Homo sapiens: one gene and its partner. The protein of the gene in region 2 interacts with the protein of the main gene of each other region in a biochemical or structural test. Each region holds a gene or a part of one and is shown on either strand. Other genes may lie near its edges.

What was found. The genes of interacting proteins can lie anywhere in the genome.
Region 1: the proteins of TSR2 (region 2) and RPS26 form a complex in vitro, tested with the Homo sapiens proteins (one study listed by BioGRID).

What each region holds. Positions count from the first base shown.
Region 1 is NC_000012.12:56,037,996-56,044,917, forward strand, and holds RPS26 (small ribosomal subunit protein eS26), read left to right. Parts: upstream 1-3,922; 5' UTR 3,923-4,171; coding exon 4,172-4,174; intron 4,175-4,429; coding exon 4,430-4,607; intron 4,608-5,367; coding exon 5,368-5,498; intron 5,499-6,123; coding exon 6,124-6,159; 3' UTR 6,160-6,702; downstream 6,703-6,922.
Region 2 is NC_000023.11:54,443,404-54,448,561, forward strand, and holds the end of TSR2 (pre-rRNA-processing protein TSR2 homolog), read left to right. Parts: coding exon 1-88; intron 89-604; coding exon 605-781; intron 782-1,012; coding exon 1,013-1,147; 3' UTR 1,148-2,705; coding exon of another isoform or gene 2,706-3,011; 3' UTR 3,012-3,907; coding exon of another isoform or gene 3,908-4,051; 3' UTR 4,052-4,629; downstream 4,630-5,158. Other genes in the region: FGD1 (FYVE, RhoGEF and PH domain-containing protein 1), read right to left, coding at 2,706-3,011, 3,908-4,051. UniProt on the Homo sapiens protein: May be involved in 20S pre-rRNA processing.

The sequences.
Region 1 (6,922 bases), on a different chromosome or scaffold from region 2:
TCCAAGCTGCAGATAGGATTTTGTAATACTTCTGGCAGCTTCTTTCCTTGTGTACATAATATATATATATACATATATATATATATTTTTAATCAGAAGTTATGAAGAACAAAAAGAAAAAATAAACACAGAAGCAAGTGCAATACCACCTCTCTTCTCCCTCTCTCCTAGGGTTTCCTTTGTAGCCTATGTTTGGTGTCTCTTTTGACCTTTACCCCTTCACCTCCTCCTCTCTTCTTCTGATTCCCCTCCCCCCCTTTTTTAAAGAGTTTTTCTCCTTTCTCAAGGGGAGTTAAACTAGCTTTTGAGACTTATTGCAAAGCATTTTGTATATGTAATATATTGTAAGTAAATATTTGTGTAACGGAGATATACTACTGTAAGTTTTGTACTGTACTGGCTGAAAGTCTGTTATAAATAAACATGAGTAATTTAACACCTCTGGTTGTTTTTGCAGACTTCCTTTGCCTTGCTTTTCTACTAAGAGGGAGGGGTCCTCCTTGCAGTATGTTATACCAACTACTGAACAGTTTAGGAGGTAAACAAAAACGAAGAATTTTCAGCCTAGACTGGGAAATGGAGGAGATTTTCCTACCAGGAAGGAGTGCCTTCAGGATAGGAGAGAAAGTCTGACTTGCCTGTCTACCCAAAGTAGAAATTAATCAAACATTTGTTGAGTACCTACTGTGCACAAAACACATTCTATGCCCAGGGTGAAATAATGCGAATGATGACAATCATAGGGTCTACCACTGCTTGAGCATCTCATAAATGCTAAGTACTCATTGAATTGTAGAAACACCTACAAAAGGATGATCACAATTATTGGTAAAAAAATAAAAGCCCAAGAGAGAATAAATACCTTATCCAAGGCTCATCAGCCAGTAAGTGACAGAACCAGAATTTGAACCCAGGGGTGTGTGATCCAAAGCATGTGCTCATCGCTTTATGCCAGGGAATGCAGCCAGTGAAACCCCTAAGCTAGAAAAATCCAAAGTAGGAACATAAATTTGTTTCTGTCTTAAATAGTAACTATTTTCTGTTCTCTTCACTCTGAACTTTTTTATGTTCTCTTCCATCTACCTCATTGCTATTCCATATAGTAATGTCTGCCTTCTGTTTTCCACAAGATTACAGTGAAGTGAAAATTAGAGACACTCCTATCTAGAGTCTATTATTTTCCATGTCCCACTGAAACTGGCAAATTCAAAGTCAAAACAGACAGGAAAGCTGGAAGTGGTGGAGGACACCTGTCCTCCCAGCTACTTGGGAGGATCACTTGAGCCTAGGAGTTTGAGAACAGCCTCAGCAACACAGGGCAACACCATCTCTACAAGAAATTTTAAAATTAGCTAGGCATGGTGGTGCATGCCTGTAGTCCCAGCTACTCGGAAAGCTGAGACGGCAGGATCACTTGAGCCCAGGAGGTCAAGCCTGCACTGAACTGTGATCATGCCACTGCAGCCTCCAGACCCATCTTAAAAAAGAAAAAAAAGCGCTGGGCACAGTGGCTCATGCCTGTAATCCTGGCACTCTGGGAGGCTGAGGCAGGCGGATCACGAGGTCAGGAGATCAAGACCATGTGGCCAACATGGTGAAACTCCGTCTCTACTAAAATACAAAAAATTAGCCGGGCATGGTGGTACGTGCCTGTAGTGCCAGCTACTTGGGAGGCTGAGGCAGAAGAATCGCTTGAACCCAGGAGGCGGAGGTTGCAGTGAGCCAAGATCGCACCACTGCACTCCAGCCTAGGCAACAGAGCAAGACTCCATCTGAAAAAAAAAAAAAAAAGTCTGGGCACAGTGGCTCACGCCTGTAATCCTAGCACTTTGGGAGGCCGAGTCGGGTGGATATCCTGAGCTCAGGAGTTCGAGACCAGCCTGGGCAACATGGCGAAACCCTATCTCTACTAAAAATACAAAAATTAGCTGGGGCCGGGTGCAGTGGCTCACACCTATAATCCCAGCACTTTGGGAGGCTGAGGTGGATGGATCACGAGGTCAAGAGATCGGGACTGTCCCAGCCAACATGGTGAAACCCTGTCTCTACTAAAAATACAAAAATTAGCTGGGCATGGTGGCGCCCACCTGTAGTCCCACCTACTCGGGAGGCTGAGGCAGAAGAATCGCTTGAACCCGGGAGGCAGAGGTTGCTGTGAGCTGAGATGGCACCACTGCACTCCAGCCTGGGTGACAGAGCAAGAGTCTGTCTCAAAAATAAAAATAAAAAAAGAAAGGAAAAGAAAAAAGAAAGTAAGAAAACAGATTTTAGCCCCAAGAAGTGGGTTAAAGGTTAAAAGAAACCATGATGGGTTGCTGGAGGGAAGGTGAATCTGGTGTGTTCAAACTCTAGAGTGAGTCATAAATGAACAATGGTTTCCATCTGTACCATCCTGGGTCTGAATGCTAGGAGGTCCCCTTGCCACCCTAGTGTCTTCAACTTTGGAGACAACTGGGTGGTTGGCTGTGGACAGCCATTCCTGCCAGGCTGAAGCTTGCTTGCTTTTTTTTTTTTTTTTTTTGAGACAGAGTTTCGCTCTATTGCCCAGACTGTAGCACAGTAGCCCAATCTCAGCTCACTGCAACTTCTGCCTCCCGGGTGCAAGCAATTCTCCTGTCTCAGTCTCCCGAGTAGCTGGGATTACAGGTGTGCGCCACCAGGCCTAATTTTTATATTTTTAGTAGAGGTGGGGTGTCACTATGTTGACTAGGCTGGTCTTGAACTCCTGACCTCAGGTGATCCGCCTGCCTTGGCCTCCCAAAGTGTTGGGATTACAGGCGTGAGCCACTGCACCCAGCCTAAGGCTTAAGTCTTTCCGATGGCTCTTCAGAGGTAAATGGAGCTTACACATAATCTTTCAATTAGGGGTCAGATTCACTAATGAGTGGTGAAATAATTTTCGTGGTTTTTGATCAGCATTTATTAAAATAGAGAACAGAAAGATTAAGTAAAAATAAAGAATAGAACATACCAGCACACCTATGACAAGGGTAAGTATCGTTTCATAAAGCTTGTGTTTCAGTTTTGCATGTGCATGTAATCGTGTTTGTGTGTGTACTGGGTACCAATGTAAAATGTATTCGTGCTATGAATCTGGGTGAAAAACGTTTAAGTCATTAGTCCAGGCTATTCCTCCATCCATTTGTTAGGTGACATACAGCATAGTACAGCGGAGCCAGAATACCTACTGCACGTCAGTTCTTCAATCTTTTTTTTTAATTGATTTATTTATTTTTGAGACAGAGTTTCGATCTTTTTACCCAGGCTAGAGTGCAGTGGCGCGATCTCGGCTCACTGGAAACTCCGCCTCCCAGGTTCAAGATTCTCCTGTCTTAGCCTCCTGAGTACCTGGGATTACAGGCGCCCACCACCAGGCCGGGCTAAATTCTTCAATCTTTAAAGTGAGGATAATAATAGTAGCTACCTATAGGCTTGCTCAAAGTTAAATGAGTTAATATTTATAAAGACGCTTACCACAGGGCCAGGCACTGTGCCAGAGATAAAAAGATGAATGAGAAATAGCCCCAGCCTCAATGCACTTCATTGTGGGATTTTCTCCATATTGGAAGGAGGGATTCACAAAATGCTTGTTTCCTCTCAGGCCTTCCTCTTCGTAATCCTACACCTACCTAGTAGAAGGACTGTCAGAGAAATGAGCCCAGGGCGTCCCCCGGTGGCGCAGCGCCGCCTTCGGTCTAAGCACTTGGGGCAGGGGGGAAGGGGGGGAGGGGGGAGCCTCTTGGCTTCGCACTACAATTCCCACCAAGCATCTGTCCCTCTCTGGCCTCTAATAACGAGTGCGCCTTGTGGTCCAGCGTCTGGCAACTTTCACGCCTAGCGTCGCGTATACCGGAAAACTGCATCGTCCAGAATTGCTTCCGAGTCGGCGCGGCGCAAGGCTTGCTGGGAGACACATAACCTCGATTTTCTTCCGCCATCCGGCTAAATAGTCCCATGTGCACTTTGTTCCATGGATAAATAAACACTAGGAACGCATTTCCACCCTAGATTTCAGCAGAAATGCTGAATGTAAAGGAATATTTGAGTAAAGTGAGTTGCCGTTCTTGAAGCCCGTCTCCTAAGGATTCTCCCGGTGTCCGCGTAGGGATCTCATGCTATATAGGAGGGCCCTGCCAGGCACCGTCTCCTCTCTCCGGTCCGTGCCTCCAAGATGGTGAGTCTTCTTGCGTGGTGAGGGTGGGGGTTCGGGTGCAGACTCTGGGATTGTGGGGAAGTGAGAGCCTGGAGCACGGCTGAGGGGTGGACCGAGTGTACATTTCATTTGCTCTGGGGGTCGGCGGGATTTGCGGAGAAACAGGAGATCCGAGCGGCGCCTTCCTGGAGGCTGCCGGTGCGGCTTGTGGCCGGAAAGGGACTGAGGCTGGGTGAGTTGCGCCGTTTTCCTAACAGTTTTCCCATCCTGTCGCAGACAAAGAAAAGAAGGAACAATGGTCGTGCCAAAAAGGGCCGCGGCCACGTGCAGCCTATTCGCTGCACTAACTGTGCCCGATGCGTGCCCAAGGACAAGGCCATTAAGAAATTCGTCATTCGAAACATAGTGGAGGCCGCAGCAGTCAGGGACATTTCTGAAGCGAGCGTCTTCGATGGTAAGTGGGTCACCGGCGCGAACTGTGTGAGGATCCCAGTATCTTAAAGCCTTCGCCCAACTTCGCCCTTTTGGAGGCTCTGTTCTTTGGAGCCTCTCAGGCAATTTCCACGTATTTAAGGTTGTTACTGGTAGAAGAGAATTCTCTTGTTTGCCGTTTTGATTCTTTTCTGGGCAGAGGGTGACTTTGTGATAGAGTGCACAGCCTTTACTCTGAGGTAAAGGTTTGCCTGTTTCGGTTATGAGATTGCAAAAACTAGAAACTTGGTAAATTTGACAATTCTTGTGCTATTGATTATTTGAATATTTGTGAAAATATACAGGTGAGGAAGAATGTCTTCAACGTTTCGAGAATGGAGGCCGTCTAGTTTGGTGTGCAAGGATGATGTTTGGAGCAATAAGAACGTCGCTTTGTTTTTTTCCTTTTATAGAAAGAGCAAGGTTCAGGGTAGGCATTAGGGCGGGTGTAGGTGTAGAAGGAACTGGATTATTGGTTTATTGCATTTAGAATGTCAGTCTGGTCCTTGCGGTGTCAAGATGAACTCACGTGGGATGTTAATTCACTTGTAAAACTGAGGGTTATACATATGTGCTCAGGTATTGGGCTGAACAGGTGCTTTGGGGGTGCTTTTATGTGCCCGACAGGCATTTAAATAGGTTTAGTTTTAATTGACGTAAACATGTAAGGTGCTCTTCATTCATGTAACAAAAAAGCAAGGTAGGTATATAATACCAGTATAACTCTATTTTCTATTCCTTAGCCTATGTGCTTCCCAAGCTGTATGTGAAGCTACATTACTGTGTGAGTTGTGCAATTCACAGCAAAGTAGTCAGGAATCGATCTCGTGAAGCCCGCAAGGACCGAACACCCCCACCCCGATTTAGACCTGCGGTGAGTATTTTAAAAGGAGAATGGAAGCCAGGGGAGTGATGGTTAAAATTTCATCCTGGAGGGTCAGGGTGTCCTATACCTGTAACCTCAACACTTTGGGAGGCTGGGACAAGAAGATTGCTAGAAACCAGCAGTTCAAGACCCCATCTCTTCAAAAAATATTGAGAAGGAAGCCAAGCATGATAGTGTGAACCTATAGTCTGGCTGCTCGAGAGGCTGAGGCAGGAGGATCACTTGAGCCCAGGAGTTTGAGGTTGCAGTGAGCTATGATTATACCACTTGCGCTCCAGCCAGGGCAAAAGTGAGACCTTGTCTCTTAAAAAAAAAAAAAAGTTGCTTCCTCCTGTGGTGCAGGGGGTATCAAATTAAGGTCTGTGCCTCAGGTTAAGCTGTAAGGCAGGTGAGACCCACACCTGAACATGCTTAGAGACACTGCAAAGCAGTGTTAGAATCAGAATTGGTTTTTAGGATGCAGAGTAGTGTTCTCCCTCCACCTCTATCAGCTTCCCATGCATTTGTAGCCTGAATACATCAGTTTGTGAGAGGATGGTGGTCAAGTTCTTTGGGGGAAGGGAGTCTTGGATCCATGGGTTTTAATTTACTCTTTTGTTTCTTTGTCTTTCAGGGTGCTGCCCCACGTCCCCCACCAAAGCCCATGTAAGGAGCTGAGTTCTTAAAGACTGAAGACAGGCTATTCTCTGGAGAAAAATAAAATGGAAATTGTACTTAATATTGCATGTTAAGTGTATCTGTGCCAGATAAGGTGGGGATTTTGTGTGTTAGACCAAGTGTGAAGTGACACACATTATTTTCATGGGGAAGAAAGCTTATTCATGTAATTTAATTTTTTTCTTTTTTTTTTTTTTTTTTTTGAGACGGAGTCTTTGTCGCCCAAGCTGAATTGCAGTGGCGTGATCTCAGCTCACTGCAACCTCCGTCTCCCGGGTTCAAGTGATTCTCCTGCCTCAGCTTCTTGAGTAGCTGGGATTACAGGTGTCTGCCACCATGCCTGGTTAATTTTTGTATTTTTGGTAGAGATGGGGTTTCACTATGTTGTCCAGGCTGGTCTTGAACTTCTGACCTCAGTTAATCCACCAGCCTTGGCCTCCCAAAGTGCTGGGATTACAGGCTTGAGCCACCTCGCCTAGCTATTTATGTAAATTAAACTTTAATTGTGGTCGTATGGTTGGCCTCACAATTCGCATAGCTGTGTGAAATGGAGATTAGGCATCTGAATTTTGGATTTAACCACATCAAGTTTAAGTTGGCATCCTAAAAATGGGTAAACATTAGGAGAATGAGGAAAAGCTATTAGTTGAGTGAGGAGCACATTGGGAAGTGACCTAAACTGAGGTGTTTATACCCCTGGAGGGGGAACTTGAATAGTGGATGTATGACTTGGATAGCTTCAGAGCATAAAAGGA
Region 2 (5,158 bases):
CTTGGAGCTAGATGAGGTGGAAGACTTCCTTGGAGAGCTGTTGACCAACGAGTTTGATACAGTTGTGGAAGACGGGAGTCTGCCCCAGGTGAGCTTATCACGGGCACAACTGCAGTCTCCCTACCTGTAGTCTTTCTTCTCCCCAGCTGTCTGTTTTGGGCCAAGACTCTTGACTATGACTCTGTTGCCTAGAGGAAAAAGTGTAGCCTTTCCAAACCCTGCCTTTTCTTTATTTCTATACATCATTCCCATCCAGGCCTGTTCCTCAGCCCCATCCCAAGGGCAGGTCAGGCCAGTCCAGGTCCATTTTCACCCCCGCTCTGGTTACCATTGCTCCCCAATAAGATTACCTTCCCTTTTACATCTTATTTCTTTCAAAGCCCAGTTCTAGAGGATTCCCTGCTAGTTAGGCTCTCTTTTGATGCTTTAGGCCTTCATTTGAGCCCTTCATATGTGGTTGCTTCATTGGTTAATTCCTTGGGGAGGAAAGAGCTCTGTTCTCTTCTGGAAAAATCCAACCTACTCCCCACTGTTGCTTCAAACACGTGCTGTTTGTATAGTAGATATCTGGAAAATCCAAACTGGTTGAATATTTTCTTGGTAGGTGAGCCAGCAACTGCAGACCATGTTCCACCACTTCCAGAGGGGTGATGGGGCTGCTCTGAGGGAGATGGCCTCCTGCATCACTCAGAGAAAATGCAAGGTCACAGCCACTGCACTTAAGACAGCTAGAGAGACTGATGAGGATGAAGATGATGTGGACAGTGTGGAAGAGATGGAGGTGAAGTGGGTGCCCCCTGGGTTGGGGGATACAGATGTTTTCAATTTTCTGGAAGAGCAGCTAGATTCACAGGGAAGTGATAAGGGGATGGTGGTGGTTGGTGGTAGTAGTATTATCCAGAGAGGGCAGGGAACTTTCCTAAAGTTACACAGCCAATCCTGGAAAAGCTGGAGCAGAGCCTGGGTCTCCAGTGGTCAGTGTATTCAGCTCTCTTTTAAATCTCCCCTCCAGGTCACAGCTACGAATGATGGGGCTGCTACAGATGGGGTCTGCCCCCAGCCTGAACCCTCTGATCCAGACGCTCAGACTATTAAGGAAGAGGATATAGTGGAAGATGGCTGGACCATTGTCCGGAGAAAAAAATGAGTGGGGATGATTGGAAATGGCTTTGGGCCCTTATTTGCTGTTCTAAGAGTTGTCTGTAGGGGTTTTTTTTTTGAGGATTGCAGACCTGTGGACTGGTTACCCCATCTCCACCCTCTCCCCTGTTCCTCTGTCTGGCTCCCTCCAGGGCAAGGAAAACCTAGGGTCCTTGGTCTTGGGGGTGGGGGGACCTTTTCCAGCATATTCCCCTGGGCCTTTAGTTAACATCCGAGTGACGAAGCCGGGTTCCCCAGTACAGTGTCTTTTGGGTGCGGTCATTGTGAGGAAGGGGATGAGTGAGTGTGGGTGTGGCTGGAGGAGGAGCTAGATGCCGGTGGACAGTGGGCAGGTGGATTTGGGGAGGAGAGGATCAGCAGCAGCAGCAGTACTCAGTGATAGGGGGCTGGCTGGGTCAGGAATGGTGAGATGAACATGCAAGTGGAAGAGAGAATAGTTGAAAATGTGAATGAAAGTAGCTCTGGAGCCTCTCCCTTACCCCACCCCACACACACGCAACAGCTCTGTACCCCTGCCCAGAACTTGGAACCTCCCAGGAATGCTGCCTTCCTTCAGCCCAGCCTCCAGTCCTGGGTTCCCTCAGGAATTCGAAGACCTTGGCTAGGTGGTGAGCTTGGAAGAGCTGGGCTTTGTTTTCTGTCTCCTCTAACCTCTTTCCTTACTCCTTATCCCATCCCATTTGAGTTCAGGGGTGAGGCTTAAGATCTTAATAAATAATACCTTACTGCTTAATCTGTGGCTTGACCTGTGAGTAGTAGCCTTAGAATCAGCCTTCTGGGAGCTCAGCTTCAGAGTTTACAAGGGAGCAGTTTCTGGGCCCACCCTAGCAGCCTGGTACTTTGGACAACCAAACAGATGAACGAACGGAGCACAGCAGTGCTATGAAAGTTACTGTAAGCCTGAAATAAACTGTATTTTTCTTAAAAAAAAAAAAACACACAAAAAAACACAAAAAACTGAGTATCCATTGTCCTCCCCCCTGTTTCCCTGTCCTGCCCGCTGGCCCTGCCATGGGTCTGGACGATAAAATACTGGGTAGCCTTGGGGCCGGGTAGAAGCTGTAAGCCATGGGAGAGGCAGGAGAGGTCTAGTTGCCACCCCACGTGGAGTTGTACGTGTGAAGACACTGGCTGAGGAGGCAGGGCTGGGTCGGGGCCCCAGGGTCAGTGGCAGAGCTGGCACTTGAATCCAGGTCTCCTACCTCTGGTGCTTTGTGGGGAACTGGGTGGAGGCAGGATCTGTGGTAGGGTATTGAGGGATGAGGGAGAAAAACGACCTAATTCAGGTAGGACTGGCAACGGCTCCCACCCTCCCTGGGGACAGGGATTAATAAAAATTGACATCACTGTAGGAATATATTTTTTAAAAGCCCACGTTTTGTGAAAAGATGAATTAAAAAACCCAAGACCCAGCATTCGGGATTGAAAGTGCCCGTGATGGGAGTTCAAGTATTGACTGAGCTGGGAGGGAAGGGGCTAGAGCCCCCAATCAGACATGGGCAACTAGAGTGTGGGGTGGGGGCTCCCAGTTTGTCCCAAACCCTCTAGGTCTTGTCTCGGGTCTGGGGGGATTCGGGGGGTTCAGCAGTGGCTCCTAAAGCAGCCACCGGTGCCTCCTCCATCTCCCTGTCCTCAGACAGTGTGGGCCCCGGGCAGAACGTGTCCCCTCGGCCCGCCCGGCCAAGCACAGCCATCCAGCGTCGCTGTAGTTCCTCTGTCTCAGGGCTGAAGTACCAGCTGAGGTGGCTCTGGGTGATCTTGAAGACATGCCTTCTGTCAGGCCGCTCCCCTGCCTCGGGCGGTCCCACCTCGAAGCCAATGAGGGGCAGGCTGCGCTGGGCTTTCACATCCTGGCGGGAGGAGGGACAGAGCTGGGGCCACCTTGGGGCTAGACCTTTCCCCCGCCCCAGCTTCTAACTGGTTTTGCATATGCTCTGTCTTCAGTCCCCTACTCAGGAACTCCCCTACTCAGGAACCTTCCGTGGCTCCAGTGTTATCAACAGGAACATGTCAGAACTGGGGCTAAAATGCAGGCTGGTTTAAATACCTGTCTCCCCCCACCCCCGCCTCTTCTCACAAAACTGCTGGGCTAGTCTCTTTAGCATACCAAATAATGTTTTCAGGCCTTTGTCTATGCTATTGCCCCTATCTGCATACTTTTTTTTTTTTTTTTTTTTGAGACAGAGTCTTGCCCTGTTGCCCAGGCTGGAGTGCAGTGGCATGAACTTGGCTCACTGCAACCTCTACCTCCCAGGTTCAAGCAATTCTCCTGCCTCAGCTTCCTGAGTAGCTGGGACTACAGGCACACGTCACCACGCCAGGCTAATTTTTGTATTTTTAGTAGAGACGGGGTTTCACCATGTTGGCCAGGCTGGTCTTGAACTCCTGATCTCAGGTGAGCCACCTGCCTCGGCCTCTCAGAGTGCTGGGATTACAGGCGTGAGCCACTGCGCTCGGTCCCATCTGCATACTCTTACCCACTCCAAATTGGACCTAGCAGTTCCCCATCTCTACTCCTTCCAGGAAGCCAGGCCCACAACTCATCCTGGTTTTCCCTACATACCACAACCACTCCTTGTCTCTAGCCAGTCTTTGTCTCTCAAGGGTTGGGGTTCTGATTTCCTCTTAGAGATAGGCTCACCTTATCTTCCAAGGCTCACCTTATCTTCCAAGGCCAAGGAGAGGTCAAGGACTGGATCTGGCTTTGCCAGGTGGCTGAAAGGACCCGAAGGAGTAGGATGCATACCTGAGGGGCTCCGTAGATATACAGCACCAAGGGTTCATTTTCAGGGACCACGAACCATGCCTTGTGCCATCCTTTGCCACCCTTCTCCATGTAGTGCAGGAAGCTGCAGATGACGCTGTTCTCTGCAGCCACTGAGGCCTGTTTCTGTGGCCAGAGACACCGGGCATCAATGTTGACAGAAGGCCTAGCCTGGCTCCTCCTAGCTTTAATACCTCCTCAGTGTAGGGACTGCTATTCCTATCTCAGATGAAGACGCTCAAGCTCAGGTGGCAGGAGTGATTTGTCCAGTGCCACCCAGTGAATCAGCTAGAGCTGAGATTCAAAGCTAGGTTCGTCTGCCTCATTTGGGCAACGGCTGCTGCCTCTACAGGCCAGTGGAAGGAGTGTGCGGATCTCAGGCATTCTTTCTTCAGTCAGAGCATTCATTCCTCAAGCCATTCACACATTTAGGCCTCATGCTTTTTTCTGTCTTTCATCACATCCATTTCCTACACTCATTGAGAGGTAATCTAGCATTGTGGTTTTAAGGGGGTATGTGGGTGGTTAATGAAGTCTGGCTTAGAATCCCAGCTCTAGATGAAAATGTATTGACTTGGAGAGCAAAGAGAGCTGATGTGAGAATTAAATGAATTAATATATGCAAAGTGCTTAGAATAGTTCCTGGCACAGAGTAAGTACTCTTTTAAGTGTTAAATAAATACCTAGATTTGTTTTTAAAAAAATCTCCAAAATGTGTGTTTGTGCATATATGCCTAGAAAGATAGGATAAGCCCTCACAATGGTAACTTTTGGGTAGAAGGGATACGGTATTTTATTATTTTTTGTTTATATTGGTCTACTTATCCTACTTTGTAATAACAAAAGACAATTTTTAAATTTTTTTTTTTTTTTTGAGACGGAGTTTTGCTGTTGTTGCCCAGGCTGGAGTACAATGGCGCGATCTTGGCTCACCGCAACCTCTGCTTCCCAGGTTCAAGCGATTTGCCTGCCTCAGCCCTCCCAAGTAGCTGGGATTGCAGGCGTGCGCCACCATGCCTGGCTAATTTTGTGTTTTTAGTAGAGATGGGGTTTCTCCACATTGGTCAGGCTGGTCCTGAACTCCCGACCTCCGGTGATTCACCCGCCTCAGCCTCCCAAAGTGCTGGGATTACAGGCATGAGCCACTGTGCCCAGCCAATTTTTTAATTTTAAAAAAATCCAGTGCTGCCACTCATTTGCTGTGTAATTTGGGCAAATGACCCCTCTGGGCCT